Homo sapiens: one gene and its partners. The protein of the gene in region 2 purifies or fractionates together with the protein of the main gene of each other region. This does not show direct contact. Each region holds a gene or a part of one and is shown on either strand. Other genes may lie near its edges.

What was found.
Region 1: the proteins of ABI2 (region 2) and PCMT1 purify together in Homo sapiens (affinity purification with mass spectrometry; 3 studies listed by BioGRID and IntAct, with this or other methods). This does not show direct contact.
Region 3: the proteins of ABI2 (region 2) and CYFIP2 purify together in Homo sapiens (affinity purification with mass spectrometry; 3 studies listed by BioGRID and IntAct, with this or other methods). This does not show direct contact.
Region 4: the proteins of ABI2 (region 2) and SASS6 purify together in Homo sapiens (affinity purification with mass spectrometry; 2 studies listed by BioGRID and IntAct, with this or other methods). This does not show direct contact.

Annotation. Positions count from the first base shown.
Region 1 is NC_000006.12:149,787,308-149,795,101, reverse strand, and holds part of PCMT1 (protein-L-isoaspartate(D-aspartate) O-methyltransferase), read right to left. Parts: intron 5,149-7,794; coding exon 5,044-5,148; intron 1,554-5,043; coding exon 1,433-1,553; intron 1-1,432. UniProt on the Homo sapiens protein: Initiates the repair of damaged proteins by catalyzing methyl esterification of L-isoaspartyl and D-aspartyl residues produced by spontaneous isomerization and racemization of L-aspartyl and L-asparaginyl residues in aging peptides and proteins.
Region 2 is NC_000002.12:203,323,937-203,331,565, reverse strand, and holds the start of ABI2 (abl interactor 2), read right to left. Parts: upstream 3,173-7,629; 5' UTR 3,052-3,172; coding exon 2,935-3,051; intron 1-2,934. UniProt on the Homo sapiens protein: Regulator of actin cytoskeleton dynamics underlying cell motility and adhesion. Functions as a component of the WAVE complex, which activates actin nucleating machinery Arp2/3 to drive lamellipodia formation.
Region 3 is NC_000005.10:157,317,546-157,325,339, reverse strand, and holds part of CYFIP2 (cytoplasmic FMR1-interacting protein 2), read right to left. Parts: intron 5,579-7,794; coding exon 5,412-5,578; intron 4,686-5,411; coding exon 4,538-4,685; intron 2,399-4,537; coding exon of another isoform or gene 2,324-2,398; intron 1,420-2,323; coding exon 1,266-1,419; intron 1-1,265. UniProt on the Homo sapiens protein: Involved in T-cell adhesion and p53/TP53-dependent induction of apoptosis. Does not bind RNA. As component of the WAVE1 complex, required for BDNF-NTRK2 endocytic trafficking and signaling from early endosomes.
Region 4 is NC_000001.11:100,101,771-100,109,564, reverse strand, and holds part of SASS6 (spindle assembly abnormal protein 6 homolog), read left to right. Parts: intron 1-1,560; coding exon 1,561-1,755; intron 1,756-1,847; coding exon 1,848-1,937; intron 1,938-2,011; coding exon 2,012-2,191; intron 2,192-2,571; coding exon 2,572-2,653; intron 2,654-3,661; coding exon 3,662-3,798; intron 3,799-6,481; coding exon 6,482-6,610; intron 6,611-7,794.

The DNA of each region.
Region 1 (7,794 bases), on a different chromosome or scaffold from region 2:
CCTGCCTCAGCCTCCTGAGTAGCTAGGATTACAGGTGCCTGCCACCATGCCTGGCTTATTTCTGTATTTTTAGTAGAGACGGGGTTTCACCATGTTGGCCAGGCTGGTCTCGAACTCCTGACAAGTGATCCGCCCGCCTTGGCCTCCCAAAGTGCTGGGATTACAGGCATGAGCCACCACATCCAGCCAGAGAAGAAACGTTTCTAATACAAGAAGTGAGTTGAGACTCTGTTCTTTCATGAGATGAATCCCGTGATCTGTCACTTGACCTTCGTCTATCTCTTGATCTCTCATGTCCCTCACTGGCAACATGAGACTCATTTTGGTGTGGTTTACTCCTGTATTCCCCTTTCAGTGTCCACACAGGATCAGGGCAAAGGCCAAGGCAAGCAACACCTCCACTTCCTCCTCAGCCAGATCCCTCTAGGGGATGGCTGTGGCTACTAGAGCTGCCCGGGCCTTTATTTTATTTTATTTGTTTTTTTGAGACGGACTCTAGCTCTGTCGCCAGACTGTAGTTCAGTGGTGCGATCTCAGCTTACTGCAACCTCCACCTCTCGGGTTCAAGCGATTCTCCTGCCTCAGCCTCCCGAGTAGCTAGGACTACAGGCGTGCGCCACCACGCCCAGCTTATTTTTGTATTTTTAGTAGAGACGGAGTTTCACCATGTTGGTCAGGCTGGTCTCAAACTCTTGACCTCATGATCTGCCCACCTCAGCCTCCCAAAGTGCTGGGATTACAGGTGTGAGCCACCGCTCCTGGCCAATATTTTATCTTTTAAACAAAACTGAGTGTGTCTGGGGAATACAACTGGATATTCATACACAAAAACATATAACTGCACCTTTACCTCACACATACACAAAAACCAACATCAGGAAGATCAAAAACCTAAACATGAAAAGCTAAAAATGATAAAGGTTCTAAGAAATAATAAGAGACATATCTTCATGGTCTCAGAGTATCCTTAAAAAGGACACAGAAAGCACTGAAAAAAATTGGTAAGTCTGACTACATTAAAATTAAGAATTTCTATTATCAAAAGGGTACCAATAAGATGAAAAGGCACACCTCAGATGGGAGAAGAAATGTATTTATATATATAGACAAAGGGCTAGAAGCCCTGTAAGTCAAAAATACAAGCAATCCAATATCTGAACAGGTACTTCACAAAAGACAAAATCCTAATGGTCAGACACATTACAAAAAATTCAATCTCAGAGGTTAATAGGAAAATACAAAATTAAACTCACAAAGAGATGGCTGCAAAATACACACTAGGTGAGCAAAAATAATCGTTTTTATTTTTTAGTACTTAAAAGTGATTGTAAAAAAAAATACAATAATTACCTCTGAGTATTATTTAGCTTGCATTGGATCTTCTGAAAATAAAAATCCTCTGAAGAAATTTTTAAAGTTTTCTGATACTTACCAACAAGCTGTACTCTCCCTGAAGACAGAAGTGTTGGATCGTCCTTCCTGACATTATTTACTGAGTCATCTACTAGCTCTTTAATGTGATCAATTCCTATGACTTTTCCAGTACATCCAACCTGGAAAAGAGAAAACAATTCAGTAGCTCATTGGGCTAAATTTGTTTTTCTAAAGTATTATTGAAGTTTTTCCTTATCGAAAGTCATATTCTACAAAGAGAAAACAAAAATAGCTTAAGGCTTCTATAGATTGCTAAACACTCAGTTTATCATAAATTATTTACCATATATACAACTTTCTCAACTATCACTCTCATTGAATAAAACTTGTAATACTAAGAAAAATTATATCTTTCTTAGATTAAATCTAGAACTTTGAAGAAAATTACCAATATTTAATAGTAGTACAATAATTTTTTATTTAAATTCCATCTAAAGTATAACTTTAAATATTAAAATGTTACATAAAGAATTTGACAGGGAGGAATTTCTTTTTTTTTTTTTTTGAGAGAGAGTCTCGCTCTGTCACCCAGGCTGGAGTACAGTGGCACGATCTCAGCTCACTGCAACCTCTGCCTCCCAGGTTCAAGCAATTCTCCTGCCTCAGCCTCCTGAGTAGCTGGGACTACAGGCCCCCGCCACCATGCCCAGCTAATTTTTTTGTATTTTTAGTAGAGACAGGGTTTCACCACGTTGGTCAGGCTGGTCTCAAATTCCTGACCTCGTGATCTGCCCGCCTTGGCCTCCCAGAGTGCTGGGATTACAGGACTGAGCCACCACACACCCTGCCTCCCGCCTGATGGGAAGGAATTTCTACACTTGTTTCTACTGCTTTTAGTAGAAAACATGAAAATATATACAGTGGCTCACACCTATAATCCCAGCACTTTGGGAGGCAGAGGCAGGTAGACTGCTTGAGCCCAGGAGTTTGAGACCAGCCTGAGCAACATGGCAAAACCCCATCTCTACAAAAGAATACAAAAACTAGCCAGGTGTGGTAGCATGTGCCTCCTAAGTCCCAGCTACTTAGGAGGCTGATGTGGTGTGAGGATCACTTGAGCCTGGGAGGCAGAGGCTGCAGTGAGTTGAGATCGTGCCACTGCACTCCAGCCTGGATGACAGACTGAGACCCTGTCTCAGAAAACAAACAAAAAGCAACAACAACAAAAATCCCTTCTTTGCATATTTATTTGTAAATTAAAATATTAAGTATAAATGTTTCAAGAAAAAATATAAAAATTTAAAAAATTAACACATAAAGGCTTTGAAGTCAAACTATCTGGGTTCTTGTCTAAGTGTCATCACTTACATACATACATACCTTGGCAAGTTAACCGTTCCTTCTTTTTTTTTTGAGATAAAGTCTCGCTTTGTTGGCCAGGCTGGAGTACAGTGGCGTGATCTCAGCTCACTGCAACCTCTGTCTCCCGGGCTCAAGCAATTCTCCTGCCTCAGCCTCCCAAATAGCTGGGATTACAGGCGTGTGCCACCACACCCAGCTAATTTTTGTATTTTTAGTGGAGACGGGGTTTCACCATGTTGGCCAGGCTGGTCTCGAACTCCAGACCTCAGGTGATCCACCTGCCTCGGCCTCCCAAAGTGCTGGGATTACAGGCGTGAGCCACCACACCCGGCCTATCATTCCTTGTATGAATCAGGTTCCTCAGTACAAAATGGGGAGGAAAAAGGCATAAACCCCATCATAAAAATGGGGTAGCACTTAGAACACAGGCTCTAGTGCTTAAAACACAAAGTACTTTCACACATGGTAAATGTGTGAAAAACATTAATGCCATTTTATGAAAAACAACTCAGAAACCAAATGATTTTTTAAAATGAATACATCCTCTAAAACTATAAACATGTCAAGTATAGAGAATGAGTCATTTATTAAATGGCATTTCTAACCTTAAAAAAAATCACTGATATCCATTAATGAGGACTTAACCTCTACAAAATGAGCAAAACATCTGAGAAAATATGAGTCCTTATTATGTGCCAGGCATTGTTTTAGATGTTTAGGATACCATCATGATAAAAAAGAGCAGACAAAATTTCCAACTCCCTGGAGCTTACATTCTAGTAAGTCTGCTGATTATACATTTATAGCAAGTTACATGGATTCTAGTCCAAGGTGGATCCACAACTCCCAATTTAACTAGATCAGAATATTCCAATCTGTCCTCCAGGCACGATATTTCTCAAATCAAACTGATGTGATGATCTAAGCAATGATCAACCTTTACTCCAACATATATTAGTGGGTCCCCAGTTAATACTCTGGATAGCCATTGACCAGATAAGACTCTGATGAGAAAAGGCAGAAGTATAACAAGGCATTATTTTTCTAAGAGCACTTTTTCTAATGCAGAAGTTTTACCTTCATCCTGGTAAATCTGCAGGAATGTTTAGAAACCAGGCTCATTCTGGGCAGGGACAGTGGAGAGGGTGCTGGGAAATGAGTCCCCTGGGAGACGGGGCCCAGCTACGATGCTAAATATCTCAGGCTCCTGAGTGACTGGATTTCCCTGGGACCCTCAGACATGTCCCAGGGCCCGGTGGGGAAACTGAGGCCTGTACAAGGAAGTAGAATTCTGAGTTGTCGGGGCTAAGCCTGACCCCCTCTCCATGCTAAGCCCACCCCCCACACTGTGCCTCAGTAGGTTTTTGTTGTTGTTGTTGTTGCCCAGGCTGGAGTGCAGTGGTGCAATCAAGGCTTACTGCACCTCCACCTCCTGGGCTCAAGGGATTTTCCTGCCTCAGCCTCCTGAATAGCTGGGACTGCAGGTGCTCCACCATGCCTGGCTAATTTTTCTATTTTTAGTAGAGATGGGGTTTCACCACGTTGGCCAGGCTGGTCTCGAACTCCTGGCCTCATGTGATCTGCCTGCCTAAGCCTCCCAAAGTGCTGGGATTATAGGTGTGAGCCACCGCGTCTGGTCCCTCAGTAGGTTTTAAGGAGCCTCCAGCCTTCCTTCTCCCCTTCTGGGCCTGACCAGCTATACTGCTCTGTCTCCCCCAGCCACATGCCCCACCAAGTACTGTAGAGAGTCCCCTACCCAGGGTCCCTGCACCATGAGATAAGGTGAAATACCAACTGTGGACCAAATGCAATAAAACCTCTGTTTTTAAGAAGAAAAAAAAAAAAAAAAGAAAAGAAAACCAGGCTTATTCTATTCTTTTCTGCCAAATCAGAACTTGGAAGAAGGTAGTTTGGGAGCTACTGGCCACCATCTTGTGATTACAAGGGTAGAGCTTACCGGATAATGACACCAACATGTGGAGGAAAGTAAAGCCAAATCAAGAAACAGAGAGAACCCTATCGTCAATAACAACATCTGCTCTTCTAAATCCAGCCACACAACAGACCGTATACACCCCTAGACTTTTCTGTTATATGAACTAAATAAACTCCCTTTTAGCTCTGCCAGTTTGGGTTGCATGTTCTGTCACTTGCAACAACAACAAAATCCTAAGTGATGCTCATTCCAACTGCTATCCTAATAGAATTAACAAACAAATAAACATGAAAACCACTAGTTAAAAAAACATACAGCCAAATCATATAATATTCTTCTGTTGGGGCCAGAGTGAGAAATAAAACTCTTACCATACGTGCAAAACATGCAGTAAGGATTCCACTTCCAGATCCTACATCAAGAGCTTTAGCTCCTTCATGCAACTGATCAAATAGAAGTTCTAGCGCATATGCATGCTGCCAAAAGAAAACAAAATATTCATTAAGACTAAAGTACACACATCATGGTATATAAATAAAGTTGCCAACTTTCTACCAATTTTTCTACTATTGTCATCTACCAAGATAACCAAGTTATCTTGGCTATCTGCCCAGGTATTACTTAAGTAAACTGTTTGATTAGAATTCTTACATTCAGATCATGTGTTTCAGTAATTTTAGACCTCCAGTGTGTGAATTTTTAACTTTTAATTAATTCAGTAAAAAAATTAAAAGATTTATAAGTGAAAAGTCTCCACCCTACTCCCATTTCCAACCATCCAGGTTTCACTCTGTAAAGGTAACCAATATTACTAGTTTCTTGTGACTCCTTCCAAAAAGGAAGGAATAGATTCTTTGCATATATAAGCAAATACAAAAATACAAAGGCTAATTTTGTATTTTTAATAGAGATGAGGTTTCTCCATGTTGGTCAGGCTGGTCTCGAACTCTCGACCTCAGGTGATCCGCCCACCTCGGCCTCCCAAAGTGCTGGGATGACATACATAAGCCACCACACCCAGCCAGTATTCTCATTATTAAAAATAATCAGATCAGGCTGGGCGTGGTGGCTCAGGCCTGACATTCCAGCACTTTGGGAGGCTGAGGCAGGTAGATCACGAGGTCAGGAGTTCAAGACCAGTCTGGCTAAGATGGTGAAACTCCATCTCTACTAAAAATACAAGAAAATTAGCTGGGCATGGTGGCAGCCACCTGTAATCCCAGCTACTCGGGAGGCTGAGGCAGAGAACTGCTTGAACCCGGGACGGGGAGATTGCAGTGATCCGAGATCATGCCACTGCACTCCAGCCTGGGCTGTAACAGAGCGAGACTCCATCTCAAAAAAAAAAAAAAAAAAAAAAAAATCAGATCCAATAGCAGTAAACACATTTACTACCAGATCTTGGTTGATAAAAATACCCATCCATTAATCTATAGTGATAAATTAATACATCATTCTATACATATATAAATGAAAAATAGGGAAAACCGTTCCCAACAAATATATAGATACATAATGAATGCACATAGAAAAAATTAAGAAAATCAGCCTTTGGGCAGCCATCTCAATAATAACTGATTGATTCAGGTAAAAATCATAAATGGAAGCTAAAACTAGTGGACTAACATTTGAAAAATAAACAGGATATTTACATAATCTCAAAGGGTTTGCCCCAGATAATTATTAATCACAAAAGGAAAAATAGTAATTTTACAATGGAGTTCAGAAAAAAGTTCTCCAGTGGAAAAACTGGGTCAACACTACCTTAATCAGATGATCAAAGTTAACACCACAATTATGGGACACACTGACATCAAATGCCTCTGCTAAGATACTTCATTTCTGGGATATGCCAGGCAAAAATGCATAACCTATATTGAATTATGAGGAAACATCAAACAAACCCAAATTGAGGGACATTATACAAAATAAATGGCCCATATTCGTAAAAATTTTCAAGGTTTTCAAGGTCATAAAAGAATAAGGAACCATTTCTCAGTCATTCTTTAAAGGAAACTAAAAAGACATGACAATCAAATAAAACTCACAATCTACTATTTTCTTTTCCTATAAGGAATATTATCAGAATAATTGATGAAATCTGAATAAGGTCTATAAATTGGCTAATAGTGTTATATCAATGCTGACTTCCAGATTTCAAAAATTGTACTATGGGTATGTAAGAGAATGTCCTTATTTTTAAAGGTAAAGAGCATTGGCCGGGCACAGTGGCTCACACCTGTAATCCCAGCACTTTGGGAGGCCGAGGCGGATCACGAGGTCAGGAGATCGAGACCATCCTGGCTAACACAGTAAAACCCCATCTCTACTAAAAATACAAAAAATTAGCTGGGCGTGGTGGTGGGCGCCTGTAGTCCCAGTTACTTGGGAGGCTGAGGCAGGACAATGGCGTGAACCCGAGAGGCGGAGCTTGCAGTGAGCTGAGAACGTGCCACTGCACCACTGCACCCCAGCCTGGGCGACAGAGCAAGACTCCATCTCAAAAAAAGTTAAAGGTAAAGAGCATTATGCCTGTAATTTACCCTCAAAGAGCTCAGAAAAACGGAAATATAATACACACACATACACACACACACACACACACAGAGGAGAGAGGGGATAAAGGGAGAGAGAATAAATGATAAAGCAAATGGTGAGATTTGCTTTACCAATGGTAAGACTGTGTGGACAAAAGTACACAGGAACTGTACTATCTGCATAATATTTCTGTAAGTCAGAAATTATGTCAAAGATTTAAAAACATTTGGGCCGGGCATGGTGGCTCACACCTGTAATCCCAGCACTTTGAGAGGCCGAGGCGGGCAGATGACCTAAGGTCAGGAGTTCAAGACCAGCCTGCCCAACATGATGAAACCCTGTCTCTGCTAAAAATACAAAAAATTAGCCGGGCGTGGTGGCGGCTGTAATCCCAGCTACTGGGAAGCTGAAGCAGGAGAATCGCTTGAACCCGGGAGGTGGATGTTGCAGTGAGCCAAGATGGCGCCACTGCACTCCAGCCTGGGTGACAGAGCGAGATTCCGTCTCAAAAAAAAAAAAAAATTATAACTATTTTATCAATGAAAACAGCCAGCTCCCGCTCCCGCTCCCTCTCCCTCTCCCTC
Region 2 (7,629 bases):
CCAAAATGGGGAAATCCCGTCTCTACTAAAAATACAAAAATTAGCCAGGCATGGTGGTACACACCTGTAGTCCCAGCTACTTGGAAGGCTGAGGCAGAAGAATCGCTTGAACCCAGGAGGCGGAGGTTGCAGTGAGCAGAGATCGAGATCGCGCCACTACACTCTAGCCTGGGCGACAGAGTGAGACTCTGTCTCAGAAAAAAAAAAAAAAAAAAAAGGCTAAATTGACCATTTGATCACTGATCCTGTGAATTAACTTTCATCTACTGCAGGGTCCAGGCAGCATCAAAACCCCTGCTGGTCAACCAAATGTACAGCTGGATCAGCACAAATCCACTGTCACCACGTTCTATTTATCAACTTTCCCAACAAATCAACAAATCATATAAGAGCTATCATCCTGAGAGTGTACCAATTATATACCTAAGGCATCCTAAAATAAATGATAATCAAAAAAGAGAAAGTGTAAAATATACTTCAGATGCTAAACTGAAGAAATAAACTATTTTAAAATCTAAGTTCATTTCTATTAAATTAATATTAATCAATATTTATGCTTTAAATTTTAAAATGTCACCACACTAAATTTTGAGTCCCATTGCTAAAACAGAGATTGATAGTAGTAACGTTTTTCTCTTTTCAACTGAAGGAAATGTATAAAATATTTAAAAAGAAAACTGCTGATGCCTTTAACCTTTCAGCTTTAATAATCCTTATCCTTTTACCTTTATATAGCAATTATAACTTAAGAGGAACTTGTACCTTCAAATTACAATAAGAAATCATCTTGCAAAAGAGAGAGAAATCTGTTTATTTTTTATTTCTTACTGGTAATAATTGCAATCCACTTTTCCACCCTCAGTTTCTCTTCTGACCTGCAACTCTTTCCCCATAATATGCTGCACAAGGCAATGGAATTACCACTTCATTCCTTTAGGTTTTGCCTCTACTAGAGATTGTGAAATCCCTCAGAACAGCATTGCTTCCTCCAGTCCTCCTTGGTACCAGCAGTGCACTACAGAGTATAAATTAACTACATGGTATTAATTTCCTCCAAGATCAGCCTCTCCTACTAGGTATGTACCATCCACCCCTCACACAGTTCTAGGCCATAAAAGACTTTCAATTTTAGCGAAAAATTGAGCAAGTGAATCTTTTTTTTTTTTTTTTTTTGATATGTAGTCTCACTCTTATCGCCCAGGCCTGAACCTCTGAATCTTTTCTACCCCACTTGTATCAGCAAAGTACATTACAAGTGGACATTTGTATTTTTTTGTATTAATCTTGCCTACATTCCTTTCCTAGTAGCCATAGTCAACTGCCTCTTTCGAAGGAACAGGTTTATACAGTGGTTCGGGTCATTCTCAAATACAAATGTTGTCTACAAGATAACAGTATGTCTAATCAAACAAAATCTCACTTCCGCGATCAACAATGTGGCCATTACAAAATTTATGAACCTATAAAATTGTAACACCTGTTTTTTAAAATTTACACTAAGACATGAAAATGCTTTCCTATATAGCTAATGTTAAGAAAGGTGCCTCACGCCTATAATCCCAGCACTTTGGGAGGCCGAGGTGGGTGGATGACTTGAAGTCAGGAGTTCGAGACCAGTCTGGTCAACATGGTGAAACCCCATCTTTACTAAAAATACAAAAATTAGCCGGCTGTGGTGGCGGGCGCCTGTAGTCCCAGCTACTCGGGAAGCTGAAGCATGAGAATTGCTCAAACCTAGGAGGCCGAGGTTTCAGTGAGCCGAGATCGCGCCACTGCACTCCAACCTGGACTACAGAACGAGGTTGTGTCTCAAAAAGAAAAGAAAAAAGAAGGATCCCTGGAGAGATGGAGGTGGGAGCAAGAAAAAAGGAAAAAAAAAAAGACTGTGAAGAAACAGTTTAACATATTGCTTCCATTTCCATCTTTATCCCAAGAGAATTTAAACGGGAAAGAAAAAAAATGGAGGCAGAACCCATAATTCAAAATAACCATAAAAAAAAAAGCAAAAGATTTTAGATTTTGCAAACTGTGCCTTTTAACCTGCTATCCTTTCAAGTAATTTTTAAAGAAGGATTTTTTTAATCCACAGAATATTTTGCTTCATCCAGGAGCAGCTGGATCTCATACCATCCGGTATCCCCCGCCTCCATACACACGCCCCTACCACTATCAGCCCTTGAGCCAAACGATCCATCACGGTAAAAAAAAAAAAAAAAAAAAAAAATTAAACCAGGAGGTTCATCTTCCCAATTCTCTCTAAGAAACAGTCATAGTCTGTCCTCCTCCCACCCCCAGGAAAACTGCCTATTCTAACAGAACTAGGAGGGAGGGGGGAATCAGCTCATCATCCTTCTCCATAGGGAAAAAAATGGCATTAACTTCCAACAAGAAACTGCTGCTCTTCTACCGTATCCCCTTTAGAACATAAAATATTAAGAAAGGGTTTCTGAAGCATTCACAGGAACAGAAAACTGAAGCCTGAAGCACTTCACTCTGCAGCAAGATAACCCCTTAAAAATCATCCAGAATTTGGGGGATGGAGGTAACCCGTCAACACCCGCGACACCCCTACCCTAAGGTGGGGAGCAGGATTCCGTCAAACAGAAAATGCCACTCTCCGCCCCCTCCGCCATCCGGAACGCTGACCGGCGCGGAGTGCGGGGGCGGCCGAGGGCGGGAGCGGCGAGGAGGCGGGACGCGACACACGCACCACGCCGAGAACTGCTTCACCGCTTTTTTAAAGGTTTTTAAAATGCAGTTTCTCCAGCCGGAGAATTCCCACCCATTCACCAGCCCCAGCCCTCACCCAGCTCCCCACCCCCATCGGGGGCTCCGCTGGGCCGTGTCCCCGAGGCGGCCTCGGCCCCACGCCCCGAGGCGCGCGGCCCCCGGCGGGGGGGTCCCCGACGCGGCCCAGCTGGGGATGCTTCGCACCTGTATGTAGTTGTTCTCGCAGTAATCGGCCACCCGTTCCAGATTTGTGTAGCTGTCGAAGAGGGCCCGGCGGCCCCCCGGGATTTCCTCTTCCAGCAGCATCTGCAGCTCCGCCATCTTCACATCCTCCTCCTCCTCCTCCTCATACAGGTCGCAGAGGGAGCGGCGGCCGCAGCGCCAAGGAAACCCAGGACCGGGAGAGGAGGAGCGGCGGCGACGGCGGCGGTAACTCGGAAGGAGCGAGAAACAGCCCCAGCGCGCGACAGGGGAGGGGGCGACGGGGGCGGGGCGCGAGCCGACGGACTCCGAGGACGGTCACCGCGGCGACGGCCGGCCGGGCGCGCGCACGCGCGCTCCCTTCCCTCCGCCCCCGGGAGCCCGAAAAAGATTCCCACCCTCGCCCGCGCCGCCGGCCCCTCCCCCACTTCCGGCGTCTCCTAGCGACGGCGGGGGTAGGGGCCGGGATGCGCGCGGGAGTTGGTGGTGCAGTTAACCCTTCCGCCGCCCGCCCGCCGCTGGAGCGGCTGGAGAAGCCCCCACCTCCCGGCGGCCTTTGTTAGCCCGGCGGGAACACACCACCCTGCTCAGCTGGCTTCCTGCCGGCTCCCTCCGGGACTCATCTCGGCTCCGTCCCCATGGAGGTCATCGGCCTAGGGAACTTCTCGAGGCTTTTCTCCCTCTGCTGCTGACGGGAGGCCGAAGGAGGGCACAGCCTCCACTCTTGGGACCCTCCTCTGTGAAAGATCACACCTCAACAGGGCAGGAATAAAACTTCCACGCAGCTTTCAATGCCACCTGACTTCATTTTTCTCAGATTTGACCTCATCCTCTTTGTTGCAGTGAATTGCAGTTTCCTAACCCCAGCTTTCCTGCGCCCCTGCCTCTTTGCACTTCCCCACTAACGCTGTTCTCCCCTGCCAGATTAGCCCCTTTCTCTCCTGGTTTGCGGTGCCGTGGGCCTCAGCTTTTTATGTTTGCCATTTCTATGATTCGCTTCCTCACTCATAACCTTTTCTGTCATTTCTCTAATGCTATCAACTTCGCTGTCCTTTTTCCTATTCATGGATTCAGTATTTAAAATTTTGAAAACGATTTTGCTAGTAGTAATTGCCTTCTTCACAGGGCTGTTACATAGATAAAATCAACGTTTATTGTGAAAATACCTTGAAAAAACATTAAGTGCTACAAAAATTCAAGGCAGATAATTTTCCTCTTGCAGAGTTATAATTCTGTTTTTATTCTCCAGATACTGTGTCTTGTTTTCCTAAATCAGACTACCCCACACAATGTAATCTGGAAAAACTAAAACTCCTGACCATTGCTGAGATATGAAGCCATGACCTTTATTTGTGCTGTGGAAAATCAAAGTTGATTCCAGGCAGTACCATCTTAGACTTGTGTAGTTAGAACAAGATCCATTGTTTCAACACTTTTCTTAATCTGGTGATCTCTTGGCCCTCCTACAGTGAATTTTTTTCATTCAGATGATGAGGAAACTTATACTTTCAAAAAAAAATCACTTTAGGACGGGCGCGGTGGTTCACGCCTGTAATCCCAGCACTTTGGGAGGCCGAGGCGGGCGGATCACGAGGTCAGGAGATCGAGACCATCCTGGCTAACACAGTGAAAACCCGTCTCTACTAAAAATAAAAATAAAAAAATTAGCTGGGCATGGTGGCGGGCGCCTGTAGTCCCAGCTACTCGGGAAGCTGAGGCAGAAGAATGGCGTCATCCTGGGAGAAGAGCTTGCAGTGAGCGGAGATCGTGCCACTGCACTCCAGCCTGGGCGACAGAGCGAGACTCCGTCTCAAAAAAAAAAAAAATCACTTTAATACCATATCATTACAAATATCTGGAGCAAACCCTAATGTTATATTGGCTTCATGATACATACATTAGCAGAATGTATGAGTTTTCACTGTGGAACCTAAATTAAAGGATATTGAAAATGTTGGTCTAGTCCAACTAGTTTTATTCTTAAGCACTTTAACCATCTTCTGTAGTAGTGGTTCTCAAACTTCAGTGTGAGGAGCTTGTTAAAAATGAAAGCTGCAGGGTCACACACACTAAGATTCATTAGTTTGAGAGCATGAGTGATGGAAATGAGTAGTTATTTAAATGACACATCAACTTGCTTCAGTGAATACGACATATGAATAATCAAGTGAATAAAACAAATGTTAGATGAAGCAAACTTTTCTTTCAGACTAAACTTCAATAGATCAAAAAATAATGTTGAAGAAGCTCATCAGGTGAGTTAAATGGTAGACAGACTCTTCCCCTATCATTACTTATTCCCACCCAGCATTTTTTCAACTATGGCTTAGCAATTAGCCTAATAAACAAATTTCCCTCTGGGATGTTTCGTCATTCTAGAAATTACCTAGAAAAGATTCTAGTATTTTCTCTAATTAGTGACAATCTCTTTGGACCTAGTTTCCTTATCAAGAAATCAAAGGGTGAGGCCGGGCACGGTGGCTCTCGCCTGTAATTCCAGCACTTTGGGAGGCCGACACAGGTGGATCAGCTGAGGTCAGGAGTTCGAGACCAGCCTGGCCAACATGGTGAAACCCCGTCTCTACTAAAAATACAAAAATTAGCTGGGTGTGGAAGCGGGTGCCTGTAATCCCAGCTACTCAGAAGGCTGAGGCTGGAGAATCGCTTGAACCAGGGTGGCGTAGGTTGCAGTGAGCCGAGATCGCGCCACTGCACTCCAACCTGGGCGACGGAGGCTCTGTCTCGAAAAAGAAAGAGAAATCAAAGGGTGAAACTCAGGTCAGGAATTCTGAAACTTGAGTGTGGTTTGGAATCACCTGGAGGGCTTTCTAAACCAGATTGCTGGACCACACCTCCAGAGTTCTTTATTCAGTTGGTCTGGCCCAATTTATTAATGTAGGTTTAACAAGTTCCCAGCTGATGCCTATGAAACGGCCCTTCTGGCTCAAAAAGTCTATGATTCCAATTTCTGGCAGCTGGGAAACTCCATCTAGAGAGGTGCTTTGTACACAGCAGAATCTGAGATGCAAGGACATAAACAAAACACTTTGCTGCCACCAAGATTGATTAAGCAAAAAAGGATAACTACAAAATCTGTAAAAGAGTATATAGTTATTAGGTTCAAGGATGAGATTGTGTACCTCATGAAAATCTTCCACTACTTCTCCATTGTTTAAGCTGATGAAGGTAATTGAAATCTGTTCAATTTTACAGTTTTTCAGATGAACTGATATGATAAAAGTGCATTTTCAAGCCCTTAGAGAGTTACAATTATAATAGTTGTACACACTTCACATGAACTTCTTATAAACGTAAATAAGCAAACTCATTGCTCTAAGAAGCCATATTTAAGAGCTTTAGTACAAGAAGATTTTCAAAATTATACAAATCTAATATACCCATGTATGAGGTTGTGAAGTTATAACCCATCTTAAAAAAATATCTTTCTTAAATTTATTCCAGTGTTTTAAAAATTATTAGCCCCTTCTAAGTCCCATGTAATAGAAGCACATCTTACCTTTAAAAACCATAACTTCTAGCAGGACAGGGTGGCTCGTGCCTGGAGTCCTACCTACTCAGGAGACTGAGACAGGAGGATCACTTCAGCCCTGGAGTTTGAGACCAGTATGGGGCAACATAGACTTTTGTCTCTGAAAAAAAAATTAAAAATGCATAAAAACAATTAATTTTGTATATGATTTAATAGGCATCTTTTTTTTTTTACTTTTTTTTATTTTTTATTTTTAGATGAACATCTCACTCTGTCACCCAGGCTGGAGTGCAGTGGTGCAATCTTGGCTCACTGTAATCTCTGCCCCTCAGGTTCAAGCAATTCTCTTGCCTCAGCCTCCCTAGTAACTGGGACTACAGGCACCCGCCACCACGCCAGGCTAATTTTTGTATTTTTGGTAGAGATGGGGTTCCACCATGTTGGCCAGGCTGATCTTGAAATCCTGACCTCAGGTGATCCGCCCACCTCGGCCTCCCAAAGTGCTAAGATTACAGGTATGAGCCACCACACACATTCAGCCTATCTCCTTTATAAGAACATGTTGCTGCTCATTTCAGGCTAAAAATGGGTCAAACAAATATCAAATTACAATATATAATCGTTATATACTGACTGACCTCCCTCATATCTTGGAAAATTCAAAATGTTCACGTATTCATCAGATAAATTCAGGATGGATGCACTATGGAGAAAAGACCAGGGAAACAATGCTCAAGGCAGACACTAGTTTGAGGATTATGAAATCAATCCAGCTAAGAAATGATGGTGATCTCCAGGGAGAGGAGATGCAAAGAAATGGATGGAGTAATAAATATTTAGTAGGTAAAATCAATACAGGTTGGTGAATGGTTAAATATGGAAGTTAATGCAAGACAGGAGTCAATGTTGGTGGTAAGATTGCTGGCTTGGGCACTTGGGTAGTTGGTGGTGCAATTTACATATAAATTACATAATATTTCACATGCCTGGAAAACCTCCAATTTACATTTATTTTCTGTATGTTTCGATCATTGTTATCAATAACACTGGCTTTTAGGACGCTGTATTAAGCTCTGTGTTGATACTATGCTACTGTCGGTAAGTTATTTAATTAAATAAAAGCCTTCAGTAGTATAGCATGTTTTGCCCTCTCAAAAGTCTTTAACAGCTGTGGAGGGAGACGGGGCAAAATTAGAGTAATTAACATG
Region 3 (7,794 bases), on a different chromosome or scaffold from region 2:
TTTTACTTAAAGGCAAGCCTAACATCTACTGCCTCTCAAGCATTTGTTAAGCTTGAGAGGCAGTGGTTGTGGGCTGGTGGGGGAGAAGAGGAGGCAGTGATGTTTTAGAGCTTTAGATGCCCCTATAGTTCCCATCCCTCTCCTACAAAGCCATCACTCTCCTACAAAACCTGCAACCTAAGCATGAAAAGTACGCTCGTGGCCGGGCGCAGAGGCTCATGCCTATAATACCAGCACTTTGGGAGGCTGAGGCAGGCAGATCACTTGAGGTCAGGAGTTTGAGCCCAGCCTGGCCAACATGGCGAAACCCCGTCTCTACTAAAAATACCAAAAAATAATAATAATAATAAATTAAAAAAATAAATAATTAGCCGGGCACAGTGGTGCATGTCTGTAATCCCAGCTACTCGGGAGGCTGAAGCAGAAGGATTCTTTGAACCTGGGTGGCAGAGGTTGCGGTGAGCTGAGATCACACGACTGCACTCCAGCCTGAACCTGGGAAGCGGAGGTTGCGGTGAGCTGAGATAGTGCCACTGCACTCCAACCTGGGCAACAGAGCAAGACTCCGTCTCAAAAAAAAAAAAAAAAGTGTGTTCATTATACAAACACAGTGTCAAGACAGGCCCCCGAGTGCCCACTTTCAACTGGATTGTGGCTCCTTGACTCCTCGCGTGTGATAATTGCCAGATCCCATACAGTTTAGAGACCTTGAAGGCCCTTCCCGGGCTACTCTCTAATGGAGAAGTTTGTACTGTTTGTTACAATCACTCTTGTCAATGCCAGCAGACATATGAAGACTCATGTTCCTGAGATACTACTCTTCCTCTGCTCTGGACATACATCTTACTAAAAGGAGAGGAAGTGTGAAGAACACAGGACTGGGATGCAGCTCGAGAGCCTCCCCTGCTGGCAGCAGCAAGTACTAATTAGCGCTTGGTTGCGGCTGAGTAGCAAAAGTCTAGCATCCGTGTGTCTGTATGTACGTATTCTTGTTTTTGATCCCGCTCTACTAAGGACTTTATGACAAATTAGCCACAAGTATCTCCTGGACAAATTTAGCTAAGTCAGAACAGCTGAGTTGAACCTGGCCTTTCCTAGCTCCAAAAGCCCACTGGAAAGTGTATGTGTTTTTTCCTTGGTGGTGATATGTGCCCCTTAGGGTCAACGGTCACGTCCCTTTGCAATGCCTGGCTTGGTGGTCTTAGCGGCTCTGAGAGCCCTCATCCCCTCCTCCCATGCCTTAGCAGGGATGGGATGCAGCTCACCACTGATGTTGAGCAGATGTGTGAAGAAGAAGGACTGTTTGTGAAAGTCCTCTATGGCGAGGACAATGGGTCCATCCAGGCTGCTCCTCAGGGTCTTCTTGGAGCCGCTTTTGTCTGCAATGAGTGATTCAAGCATGGTCCGCACCATGTACAGCTTGAAAAAGAAAGCAAGATGAGAAGGTCAGAAGCTGGCCCTCTACCCCGGGGAAAAAGGTTGCTTCATGTTGTATTTATGTATTTTTTTTTTTCTGCAGATGTCTGCTCTTAAAAAGCACTGTCCTAAGGAAGCACCAGTTTAAGGTTTGAGAAATAAATGTGGAACTGTGAAAACCTTCATGGCCAACCCGGGCCCCGTGGCATCCCTGGGCCAGTGGACCTGGCCACACCAGGTAGCTCCCTGCTCTGCTTGGCCAAGGGCGTGTATATCAGAGGAGAACCTCATTACGTGTCACCCTGGAGTCACTCCCTGCTTTCCCAGAGGGCCACAGATGCCATGGGTGGAGCACTGGACTGGGAGTCAAAAGACCGGGGTTCAAGGCCAGGCACTGCTGCTGATTTGCTGTGTGACCTTAGGCAACAAAGCCCCCACTCTGGGCCTCAGTTGTCTCATGTAACATGAGGGGGTTGGACCAGATGCCTTCTCACACCAGTCCCTTTCAGCACTAACATTCTGAGGAACTGAGAAATGGGATAAGATCAGAACGAACCCCCTCCCACACCTGTTCCTGACCCTCAGCGTTTTGACCCCATGGCTGAGCGATGGCGCCCCCTTGGTGGCATCAGCTGCACTGCACAGCCTGCTGAAGTTCAGGGTGGAAGGCGGGTTAACATTGGTACTTACACAGGAGGCTACTAGACAATTAACTCCCGCTTACAGGGTGCCTTAAGTGCAAAGGATGCAAGTGCGGTGGGGTGGTTCTCTTTGCTAATCTAGATCTCTCCACATCATTTGTCTGTGAATCTTAGGGCTGGAAGGGGCCTTGAGGAGCCAGGCTAGTCCATTCCTGCTGCCTCCTCGAGAAGGGTACCCAAACCAACCCAGCCAGGCGGTGTGATACCAGGGATCGGCAGCCTCTTCGGCCCTGTGTGCCACCAGTGGGGTGAAACAAAGCCCTCGGGGACCACTGGCAGGCCTAAGACATAGATAGGAGAGAAGGAAGAGGGAATGGGAGGGCAGGAGAGACAGGGAAGAGGGAGAGAGAGAAAGAGAGAGAGAGAGAGAAAAGCAAGAGGTATTGTATACGGTGGGAAAGCCGCCGCGACTGCCGGGGGCCACCTCTGAGACACTCCAACCTCCCAGCAACCGCGTTCGTCTTCGCTGCCTCTGGAGCTTCCCTGGGATCTCCCCCATCACATGCCTGGCACTGATGCGGGTAGAGCAGCCACAGAAACGTGTGACCCACCATCCCTGCCACAGGGCTTCCTTTGTGGGAAAGCAGCCACAGTGGCCGTCAGTGCCTCAGACAGTCCCCCATCTGCAGCCCTGTTGGAGGGCCTGTCTCACCATCCCTAGGAGCCGAGAAGCACTCTTCTCATGACGGCCTCTCAAGTCCTCAAAGGAAGAATCCAAGTCTAATCTGTTGTGGGTGCTGTCCAGTTGATATCCAACTCTAATTCTCTGAAAACTGGTTTCACCCATAAGAAGGTGAACTTTTTTCCCACGTACTTTTACTTAACAGAGCATTTAATTCACCAAAACAGTCTCTATCCCAACTATGCAAGATGCCCATGTCTACTGTGTCCTGAAGACCGTACCAGAGCCCTGGGTGGGTGTCAGGAGACCTGGGTTCTTGTCCCACCTCCACCTGGGACTCACCTTGTGACTTGGACAAGTCACTTCCCCTCTCTAGACCTCAGTTTCCCCATCCGCAAGAGAGGGGGAGGGCCTAGGTTTCTCTAATAGCGCTCCCAGCTCTGGTTGTCTACGAGTCTATTCAACATGTCTGTGCCACCTAGCATGACCTGGTAGAGGTTGGGGGTGAGGCGGGATTTACTGCTGGTGACCCACCCCTCTCACATTATCTACACAAATACTCCTTCCTCTCCTCTCCTTTTCTCTCTGCCTGTTAAGTCCCCTCCTCCTCCTTTCCAGTGTCTTTTGTGCCTTGTCTGTCTCTTGCTCACTCATGTCTTAAAATTTACAGAAACACTTGAAAGCCCTGCTCAGTGTCTCCCGGACCTCAACCCTTGATATTACACAGAACTGTTTGCAGACGCTTCCTTGGGGCGTTCTACAACCAGCCGGTGAGATTGGTGCAAACTAGCAGAGGGCTGTGAAGCCAAGGGGAGTTAAGATGACCCTGCCGAGAACCCACCTCTCCCCTGCCCCAGCCCCCAGCACAGACACAGACGCACACACAGGGAGAAGGGTCGGGGGTGGGCCTCAGATGGTCCATCTTGGGTGACTGAGAACAGAGAGAGGCTTAAAGGTCATGGGAAGTGAGGCCTGTGAGACCCTTAAACTTGCAATGAGAACCATCTGCTTTTTCCAGTACATCAAAAATATTACCAGAAACTACCTATCCTTAAGTAGGTAGCAGGGATTTAACGAAGATGCCCAGATTATTGACTTTTTTTTCTGTAACGTTATGACTGCTCTGGATAAGCCACGGGCGACCTCTTGTGCAGAAGCTCTGGCTGGCAACTCTGAGTGTTTCCAAATACTAGACTTCCTCTAAGGGGACAAGGGCTTTCAATACTTGCACTTTTGGAAGGATGTGGAACTAAGGAATATTTTGTTAGTAACACAATCTCATCCAAAGTTTTCATTTTACAGAGAAGATAATCAGAGCTCAGAAAGCTCAAGGTGCTTGCCCAAGATCACACAGCAAGTCAGAGGCAGAACTTTTAGGGGAAAGGGCCAGGACTTATTAAAGAGGGGCAGCATAGATGCATGCAGATAGATTCCACTTTAACCTCCTCCTCCACTTTGGAATCTATACTTCATAGGACTAGAAGATAGCCAGGCAAGGTGGATGTGGTGGTATTATCCCCATTAGCCAGTTTAAACAACTGAGGCACAGAGAGATCTGTAAAGTGCCCGAGGTCACACAGGTATCTAGGACTAGAATCCAGGTCTCCTGAATCTTAAGCCAGTGGTCCTCCTTCCTATATCAAAACAAGATGGCAGAATAAGACCGGAGCAGCCACTCAACCCTGCCCCTCCTGACCGACGGCTCCCAGTCCCACTGCCCATGGCCAGCCATGATGATCTACCATAGCCCGGCTGGCCTCTGAGTCAACGCAGCTGGCCTGTGCCTGGAGCCGCTTACCTGTGTGCTGGATGGCCCCACAGCACGCCGGGGCACCTTGATATCAAATCCACCTTTGGGGTCCTTCTCCCCTCTCAAGCATGGGTCATTAGGGGGCTCTCGCCCTCCCTCCCAGTCACAGATGGTCTTTCGAATTGCCTGTAGGACGCTGGGGAAGGAAGAACTAAGACTTAGACCAGGTTTCACCATGGGAAAACGTCACTACAAGCTTGTGTTTCTAGGGCCCGTGGTGTCCCAGGAACACCCACATTTGAATTCTTGGGGTGCTTGTAAAGCATGCTCATTTCTGCCCCAATTCCAAAACTCTGGTTTAACAGATTTAAGGTACAGTCCAGGAATCTGTGTTTAAACAAGTGTCCTACATGGTTCTGATGTCCAAGGGATGTCTGAGAACTCAGCTCTGAGCCCATCGAGTGAGACAGAACTTGTGTGAGGCAAGAGGTCTGTATTTCCTTTCTGGTTATAGGGGAGTCTCACCGGTCTTATGAAATCTGTGTGTGCTTAGTTTTCATAATAGCTTAGATGTGCTGCATACTTACTCCATGCTGCATGTGCTTAGGTCTATATATGGACCATCTCATTTCATCATCCCAACAGGCAGCAGGTAGCATTATAATCCCCATTTTACAAATGAGGAAAACTGAGGTTTGGAGAAGGTCAGCAACCTGACCAAGTTCACACAGCTAGATAGCAGTGGATATGGACTTCTAGAGATGAAGGCTTAATTCATCCCAAATGCCCAATCTCCTAAAGAGCCCTCTGGAGCTTGCTGGAAGGACCCATGTGTGTTCAGTGGCTGAGCCAGGACATCCTCTCTGATGGGTACCTGGCATGCTTATGTCTGATATGCTCCTGAAGGCATCTGAAAACCCACCTGATGAGGACATTCTTCTTCTTCCGTACCGCCTGCCGCAGGGGCTCACGCAGCGTCACCTGGGCGAAGTCCTGCAATGCCGCGTAGATGGTGTTCCTGATGGCCTGGTTGAAGACGCTCTCCATCCTGCCCATGAGCACCTGCAGGCCTTTGATCATGGCGATCACCTGGGCAGGAAGAGGCCAAGGGTCATGTTCACCATGTCCAGCACACCAGCTGTCTACTACCCATCACCGCCCTGCCAGGGGAGGCGGGGAGTGAGATGTCCAGAGGCATGAGGCCAGTGCTACTCAAAGTGCCAGCGCATGGCTAGGTAAGAGATGTGTGCCAGAATGTACGTATATCAGCACTTGGCTTCATTCATTGAGAAAGTCTTGCTACAAAACACAAATGTCAGCTCAACTAACAGCATTCTTCGCAATGCAACTGATTTTCATCCTCGCATGAGCTCCCAATTTTGTTGTTCACTGCTGACAAATAGCAGCTGGCCCATGGGCCACAATTTGAGCATTTTGAGAAGTGCCTTGGCTTTTGAAGGCCTCTCCATAGACCAGGCACTCACAGACAACATCAAATAGAACTTTTTTAACATAAAATTTTCTAAAGAATTTTTACAACCTTTGTTTTTGAAACCGTTTGGCCAGTTGCTGCTTGAGTTTATAAAATCAAAACTTCTCCTGCAGAAGTCATGGGGGAGAATGCCTCTACTCCCCTATTTCCCTTCTCCTTACCCTAACTCACTTATCTGTTTGGAGAGATGGGGATTCAGGCACGTGTGATGAGAGGAGCCTGGCCTGACCTTGGCTCGCTCTTTTGGGACCTGCCTGCCTGCAAGTATGTGGCCTCCCTTCTAGGTTTCTGGCTGCTTCTTGCAGTAACCATCCCCTGCCCATCCCGAGGAAGGGAGGCGTGTATCTATGCAGCTGCTTTGCCTATTACCTAGTGGCAAGTTTAATGAGATGTAGGAGGCATAGGAACACTGGTGTGGCCTTGGGTGAAAACCACATTCTCTAGTCTAGCTTTACCAGCAGTAAGTCTGAGCCTTTGACTCCATTGGCCTCTAATATTAATTTCTCAATTGATTCAGAATTCAGAGGGAAAGGCATGTGGCAGATCGTCCACCTCACAACTGCCACACAGATCACACCCATAATGGCATGTTCCACCTTCTACACCAGACTGGAAATACACAGGACAGGGCCCAGCTATGCTGTGCACGCCCAACTGCCAGTGTCTGGGTCCATGGTGGGCAGACACATTTTCTGTTGAAAAGGAACAAATAAATGAATGAATGAGCTCAGACCCTAAGGCTGTTTTTTTCTCTAAAACTTAAAGGAAGAAAAAGAACATTTTTAGATAGAACTGGTATGAAAACAACTCAGGAGGTGATGGTTTTCATTGGCACCAACAGTACAACAATTTTGTTGGTGATGAGCTTTAGTGCAGAGAAATAATGGGAGAGAAGCATTAGAGGACTGTTAGATCATAACAGAATCTGGGCCCCTGGCTACAGATATAACTAGGAGACATTAGGAAAAAGGAAGGAGTAAATAATGAAGATGTCTCAGAATGGCTCCAAATACAGAGGAGTGGGCAGGCCTGTTGGATCTAAAGGAAAAATCTTTACAACTCTAGACAAGGCAAAGATTTCTTAGCTGAAACCCCCAAATCACTAACCACCAAATAACTGACAAATTGGACTTCATCAAAATTAAAAACAGCTGCTCTTCAAAAGGCACCCTTAAAAAATGAAAAGGCAAAGTCACTGATGAGAAAAAATATTTGCGACATATATTTGACTGAAGACTTGTGATCTAAAATATGGAATGAATTCTCACAATTCCATAATAGGAAGACAGAAACCCGATTTTTTAAAAATGGGCAAAAGATCTCAATACTTCACAGAGGAAGATATATGAATGGGATACAGGACAGGACAGAGGTAAAGGGAATTCCCAAGATAATAAATAATGAGGAGAATCTTGGATCAGTGGCGGGGCTGGTCTAGAGACAAACCCATGCAGATTGGAAAGAAGAGAGCTTGTGGAGGAATGCCTCCAAGAAAAAAAGAATAATACCAAAACTCATCAAATGATGACTGTGATGGACTATTTTGTAAGGAGTTTTACATTTTGTTGGTAGGTTTGGGGTTGCCTTTTTGATAGACTCATAGAAAACAAAATAAAAAATACAGTATTGCTAATTCTATGAAGAACAAAAAGTTGTGCAAGAAAATAAATGGATTCACATTAGAGCGTGTGGCTCAGTGATGGACAACAGTTACTTGGTTATAATAATAATAAGGTAACCATTGATTTTTACCAAAAAGTGTAAAATTACCACGATGGGAAGATGGGGGAAGGAAACCAGGTGTGTTGCAGGG
Region 4 (7,794 bases), on a different chromosome or scaffold from region 2:
TGCAGGTTTGTTGCATAGGTAAACATGTGCCATGGTGGTTTGCTGCACCTATCAACTCATCACCTGGGTATTAAGCCCCACAGAAATTTTTAAAATCTTGCTATAGTGCCACATTTGTTGTTGCTTTGGCATTGATTACAGGCTTCTTTGTAGCATTATATATTATTGTCATATGAATTATTAGAAAATATATGTAGATTTTGTCTATATTTAAATACCAAAGTTACCAGTGTTATTCTAGCTCACAAGACTTCAAACTCTATTTTACCAGTCTCATGCTTAGAAGCTCTAAAGCCTGACCAATTTTGTGTTCAGATCCTCATATTGTTTTGCCCCAATAATAGATGTCTTCTGTTTTTCCTGCATACACTCTTCATACTGGTTGTAAAGCATTTGAACCTTCATGGTACATTGGTAGTCTAAATGCTTCAGTATAATGCTCTGATTTCATTATTCTCAGCCCTGGAACTGGTCATTATATAAACAACCTCATTGCATTGATTTTTATATGATCTAATGAAAATATTTCCTCCAAGATTTTCATAAGACTTGCAAATTGTTAGTTCTTGGAGCTTTTTTTTTTAACTGCTGAGTATTCAGTTACCTATTTTAAGTAACAATTTTTAGGCATTAGTGTCCTAAAAATAACAATTGCTACCATTTATTGAGTTTTACTGTGTGCCAGCCAAAATGCTAGGCAATTTACGTAAGGATTTTTATGAAGGTTAAATGAAATAATTTATTAAGTATTTGTTATTTCTGTTTTACAAATGAGGGAACTGAGATTTAATTTAGGGAGTTTCAGTAATTACCAAGATCACACAGTAGAAGAGCCAGGATTTGAATTTTGTTTGATACTAAAGTTTGTGCTCCTAAAACCACTATAGTCACAATACTGTATAATTATTTTTGGAAACTTTGGTTAAGAACTAAAACTATCTAGGAATATTGTATCCTGGGCTTTCATATACCAGCAGCATTTGGGTTGATATTAGCTGATTGGGAAGAGATCTATTGTAGATTTTTTAAAAATCTATTTTTAATGAACAATTATTGTTTATTTTGCTTGAAAGAGTGAACAGAGAGATCTGGAAATGTTAACATTTATTGACATAGAAAGATATTTGTAATACGTGAAGAAGGTAGATTATAAACTGCAGAGTATCAACCTTTAAAAAACAATCTGTACATGTAAGCAACAAAGAAAAATGTTAAGTCTACATTGTGGCGGCTCTCACCCGTGGTTACCCTTGGAATCAGTTGTGGAGACATCAGAAAATTATTGTTAAAAGTTTTAAAGTTACTGTAATTTATTCATAAATTAGAATTATTTTCCCTTGATATGATTGAATCAGATAGTAGAATATTTTACAATTATATTCCAGATATATGCTACTATACCATTAGAAAGACATTTATGCTTTTAAAAAAAAATCTGTACTAAAACTTTAAAATTATTAAAGACTTTTTTTTAATATGTTAGACATCTTAATTATAAATAACCAGATGAGGCAGCTTCCTTTTTTCATAATGCTTAATTTCTTTCTTTTCCCATTCTAGGAGCTACAGCGGACTAAGCAAGAAGTCCTCTCTTTGCGAAGAGAGAATTCTACACTAGATGTTGAATGCCACGAGAAAGAAAAGCACGTTAATCAGCTACAAACAAAAGTGGCAGTTTTAGAACAGGAAATCAAGGATAAGGACCAGCTTGTTTTAAGAACAAAAGAGGCATTTGATACAATCCAGGAACAAAAGGTCTACTTTTAAATTTTTCTCAGAAATTGATAATCATATTTATAAGTAAACACAAATGCCCTAATTATTCATGTTTTTAAAAAATATATCAGGTGGTTTTAGAAGAAAATGGTGAGAAAAATCAAGTACAACTAGGAAAGCTTGAAGCTACAATAAAATCATTATCTGCAGAACTTCTGAAGGTTTGTTTTAAAAATTTTATAGACTAGTATTTCATTAAATTACATAGAAATATACATATGAAGCTCTTTTATAGGCAAATGAAATTATCAAGAAGTTACAAGGGGATCTGAAAACTTTAATGGGTAAGTTGAAATTGAAGAATACAGTTACTATTCAGCAAGAAAAACTCTTGGCTGAGAAGGAGGAAAAATTACAAAAGGAACAAAAGGAATTACAAGATGTTGGACAGTCTCTTCGAATTAAAGAGCAAGAGGTAGTTAATATTTTAAATTTTTATGTTGTAACTAAATTTTTTCCTCGTTTTAAAAATTTATGCTTTGTTACATTAACAAATGGCTTTGGTCTTGTTTTTTTTTTTAACAAAAGAACATGACTAGATTGAGTAGATGGTAATAACCTGTTTCAGTTTGGAAAGTTAGTTATCATGATTCAGATACCTTGATTGCTCATGTATGTCTATGTTTGTATACACATGTAAATATTTTATTACATAATTGAGCTAATTCCTTTATTCTCATTTAATAATAGTAGTAGTAACCATTTATGTAATTATTTAGTTAATAATAATACATTCTTCAGTTTTTATTTAACCTTTATTTTGCTTGACTTATTGTGATGATTGATATATTTCAGGTATGCAAATTACAAGAACAATTAGAAGCTACAGTTAAAAAACTTGAAGAAAGCAAACAACTTCTAAAAAATAATGAAAAGTGTAAGTATGTTACGTGTTAATGTAAATGAGGTTTGTAGTTTTATTCTTTTATTTTTTTGAGACACGGTCTCACTCTGTCACCGAGGCTGGAGTGCAGTGGCATGATCTCAGCTCACTGCAGCCTCCACCACTTTGGTTCAAGTTATCCTCCCGCCTCAGCCCCCCAAGTAGCTGGGACTAAGGTGTGCACCACCACACTCAGCTAATTTTGTGGGTTTTTTTTGTAGAGACGAGATTTTATCATGTTGCCCAGGCTGGTCTTGAACTCCTGAGCTCAAGTGATCCACCCGCCTTGGCCTCCCAGATTGCTGCGTTTAGGTTTACAGGTGTTAGCCATCGTGCTCGGCTGTAGTTTTATTCTTAACCTGAAAATTTTATTCGAATTCATAAAAGTAGACATTGGCCAATATATAAGTAATTTCTGCTTTAAATATACTGTCTTAATGCCTTTTCTATAATAAATTTATATCATCTGCCCAGTAAAAGAGTTATCATCTTTATAAAGAAAACCATATCCCATAGGTCAGTAACCCACAATTAAAACTGTTGAAAATGTTGACTGTAATTTATTGTTTAAATTCTTCATTATTCCTTTTTTTAATAGCTGTGTTTACCTAATAATAACAATATGAATTGTTTGAAAACAAAACATAAAAATAAGATTTTAACTAACATTTTCTCAGTTTATACTACTGGGTATCATACATAAGATTGTGAATTTTAAGTAAACTGTAAGATATTCTAGAAGTGAAATCTTTCAAAGAGTTGCTTGACTAGCAGAAATATGTGCTTCGGAAAGTAATACAATAAGGAGTCCTATGTGGCAGCTTCTAAAATAAGAAACTTTAATGACAAAAATTTAGGTGAACCTATATTGCTCTCCTGTGATGTCAGGTAGTTGTAAAAACTTATAATTTAAAAATCTTAATATAATTTTTAAATGTTTAAGATGATTAGAAAAATAAACAGTCAATATTCTTTACCTTGCTTCTTGTTCTTTTATTTAAGTAATCACGTGGTTAAATAAAGAACTAAATGAAAATCAGCTAGTGAGAAAGCAAGATGTATTGGGACCTTCTACTACTCCGCCTGCACATTCCAGCAGCAACACAATCAGAAGTGGAATTTCTCCTAACCTGAATGTGGTAAGATTTAAAACAAGATGTGAGTGATCTTAGTGAATTTCCTGAAACAAAAGTATTTCCAGATTGTTAGGAAGTTTCCATGATTTAAGGTGCTGATACCAATACAAAGTGGAGTCCTACAATTGCACTGAAATAGAGTTTAAGTTGCCCCTGGAAGTGGAACAAAGGCACACTTGCTCTGAACAGAGGCTGAGTTTCAAGAGCACATTTCTTTTTTTTGTTTTGTTTTGTTTTTTTTTTGAGATGGAGTCTCGCTCTGTCGCTCAGGCTGGAGTGCAGTGGCGCGATCTCGGCTCACTGCAAGCTCCGCCTCCCGGGTTCACACCATTCTCCTGCCTCAGCTTCCCAAGTAGCTGGGACTATAGGCGCCCACCACCACGCCCAGCTAATTTTTTGTATTTTTAGTAGAAACAGATTTCACCCTGTTAGCCAGGATGGTCTTGATCTCCTGACCTCATGATCTGCCTGCCTCGGCCTCCCAAAGTGTTGGGATTACAGGCGTGAGCCACCGCACCCAGCCAAGAGCACACTTCTTTATAAGTCTTGACTGGATATTGAAATCTTTCAATGCTAACTAAAGTAATACCAAATATACTGAAAAACTTGAAAACACATAACGTAAAACATTTAGGAGACTTGAAGAAGAGAGAATTCAGGGTTTAGGCTTAAGCCTAAACTGAATTCTATCAGAAAAAGAAAAGAAAGTAAAAAAGAAAAAAGTCCTATTAGCAGGCTTGTCACCTTTAGATTCTACAAGAAACTGGTTATGAGATATAAACTTTCTAGCTCCCAGGACCAGATTTTTTTCTCTTTTGAGACAAGACCTCACTCTGTTGCCGAGGCTGGAGTGCAGTGGTGGGATCATGGCTCATGGCAGCCTTGACCTCCTGGGCTCAGGCAATCCTCCCACCTCGGCCTCTCAAAGTGCCGGGATTATAGCTGTGAGCCACTGTGCCCAGCCCTGCTTTTTTTTTTTTTTTTTTAACCTGAGAAAAAAGGGAGGCTGGGCACGATGGCTCATGCCTGTAATCCCAGCACTTTGGGTGGGAGGCTGAGGTGGGTGGATCACCTGAGGTCAGGAGTTCAAGAGGTCAGCCTGGGCAACGTGGTGAAACCCTGTCTCTACTAAAAATACATAATTCAGTTGGGTGCAATGGTGCATGCCTATAATCCCAGCTACTCGGGAGACTGAGGCAGGGGAACTGCTTGAACCCAGGAGGTGGAGGTTGCCATGAGCCAAGATCGCACCACTGTACTCCAGCCTGGGCAACAGAGTGAGACTCTATCTCAAACAGAAAAAAGGCAGAATAGGAAAAGCAGCTTCTTACATTCAGAGGTGGTTTGGTACTATCTGATAGTTAGGCCTAGGTGCTGCTAGGAGCTTACCTAGCATCCGCACATAGGCCTGGGGCTCTCCTGTTGAACACAACAATTTCATGGAATATTAACATCAGGCAAGGTTACTCTGTGACTCTGTCAATACAAAAACAAGACTGTTTCATAATCATGCCTGAATACAGACAAAAATATGAACATTGCTAAATCACAGATATGGCCCATAAGCATCCTCATATCCTGGCTAACATGAATGGCTGCTGCTGCTTTAATTACAGCTTTGACCTTAATACATTCCTCTTGCTTTATTAGATAGGATTTATTCAGATACCCAGTCATACATTTATCCCCATTTCCCAGTAGCTTCCAATCCACAGCAAAGCACCACTTAAACTTTTTCTTAAATCACCTAACATGTGCCTAAATCCAATAAATAAGTCCCTTTTAATACCCACTTTTGGAGATACCCATGTTTGTTCATGGTGTGCAGTTTCCCTTGTTGCAAGGAGCAATAAATCTAGCTCGTATATCTATACATGGGTTCCTGGTGGTCCTTGGCTACAGGACATTGGCAGAAGGTTTAAAATTCAGATTCCTAATTGAATTTTTAACCTAATCTACTCTGGTAAGTCAGAGTACGGGATGTCTAAAGAAGGGGAAAGATTGCTGTTAAATTGGAGAAGGGTGCAGAAAGAAGTGCCTGGGGCTGAATTACAAACTTAAAAAAGATTTTTTGTCCGGCTTAAAATTTGAATGACTGATGATAGCTGTGTGAAAGGTGTTTTTTTGTGTGCATCCATTAGTGTGCACAAATGCTTCTCAAGATTTCTGTTACAACTGGTCTCAGTATAAAAATAAACTTTTTCATAACGTTGGTTAATGTGTGGTGCCAGTATATTGAAAATTAGTGGCAAAACCAATTACTGTCTCAATTAGTCCATTTAAGAACACTGATCTTGTTTTTATGCAGTCTGACAGAAAATTAGTTTTATTTTATCTCTGATTGGCCTATTGATCTCCAGACTCCCCCATTCCCCCCTTTTTTAGGAGACTTAGAGTGAAACAAGTTGGTTCAGAAGCTTGGCTTTAACTTAGTACAAAGGCAGGCCCAGTAGTTTGTTTTATCCAAGCTTGCACACCTACCTTGAAAAGCCCTCTAGTTCAAAGTTATCCTAGCCCCATGGTAGATAATAAAGCAGAGTTGTGTGGCATGATAAACAAGACTGGCGTCTGAGATAGTGCTCTCTTAATTATTAGTTATTATAACAGATGCTAATGCCACCTGATCAACAAATACTATTTAGAATTAATTTATCATCTTTAATCATCTTTATGTTTTTATTTTTAGGTTGATGGTAGACTGACTTACCCAACCTGTGGGATTGGTTATCCTGTCTCCTCTGCATTTGCATTCCAGAATACCTTCCCTCATTCGATATCTGCCAAAAATACCAGCCACCCTGGTTCAGGAACAAAGGTAGCCAAATTAACTAATACTTGTTCTGGGAAAAAATATAGCAACCTATTAGCATACAAACATTTCACATCTTTTAAAAGTTCATTTATTCTTTGGTCAGTTGTTAAGTAGTAGGTAGTGTATTAGATAAATACATTACTGAATATCTAGTATCTATGTGTACAGGAAATATATGCACTATATATTTCTTGAGTCACTGTAATTTCTAAAATCTTGACATCAGTCTGTTTAAACCTCACTTATTTCTACTCAACCTCTCCTTTTTTTTTTTTTTTTTTTGAGACAGTCTTGCTCGGTTGTCCAGGCTGGAGTGCAGTGGTGTAATCTCAGCTCACTGCAGCCTCTGCCTCCTGGGTTCAGTGATTCTCGTGCCTCAGCCTCCTGAGTAGCTGGGATTACAGGCATGTGCCACTACACCCAGCTAATTTTTTTGCAATTTTAGTAGAGGTGAGGTTTCGCCATGTTGGCCAGGCTGGTCTCGAACTCCTGGCCTCAAGTGATCCGCCTGCCTTGGCCTCCCAAGGTGCTGGGATTGCAGGCCTGAGCCACCACGCCCGGCCAGCCTTTCCGTTTTTATTCATTCTTCTACTTGTGTCTCCTACGCTCTCAGGCCTGGCTAGGATTTCTGACTTCATACTGTTGGAGTCTGAGCTATGATTTGGAGTCCATTGCTAGAATTTAAAGGTCTGGTAGGGCAGGCTTAAATCAAATTCTAAAATTTAGTTCTGACAGCATTATCTCAGATAAGATATGACTAGCAATCCCCCCAACCCTTGATATATTTGTTAAGGCTTTCTTCTACCTACTTCTTTTTCCTCATTTTTATTATTATCTTAGATTTATGTATTTTTTATGTATTATAATTTTGTTTTCACAATAGTTTAATCCACCCAGACCAGTCACTGCTTTTATTTTCATTGCTAACTTCAGATCCAGGTTTATTTTTTCTTAAATAATGAGACAAATAAACATTTATGAAAAAATATTGTATAAAAGATAAAATTGAGGACTTTGAAACTGGTATTACAAACTCTATCAAATTAGGTCTGGGCTACTCTAAAAATAAGTTGGCTGTGTTGCTTAGGCATGTGCTCTTTTTAGCCATAGCCTTATTATTGCCAGTAGCTATGGAGAATTCTCAGTTAAATGAAAATTAAGCCTGAGTTTTTATGCCTGGAATACTG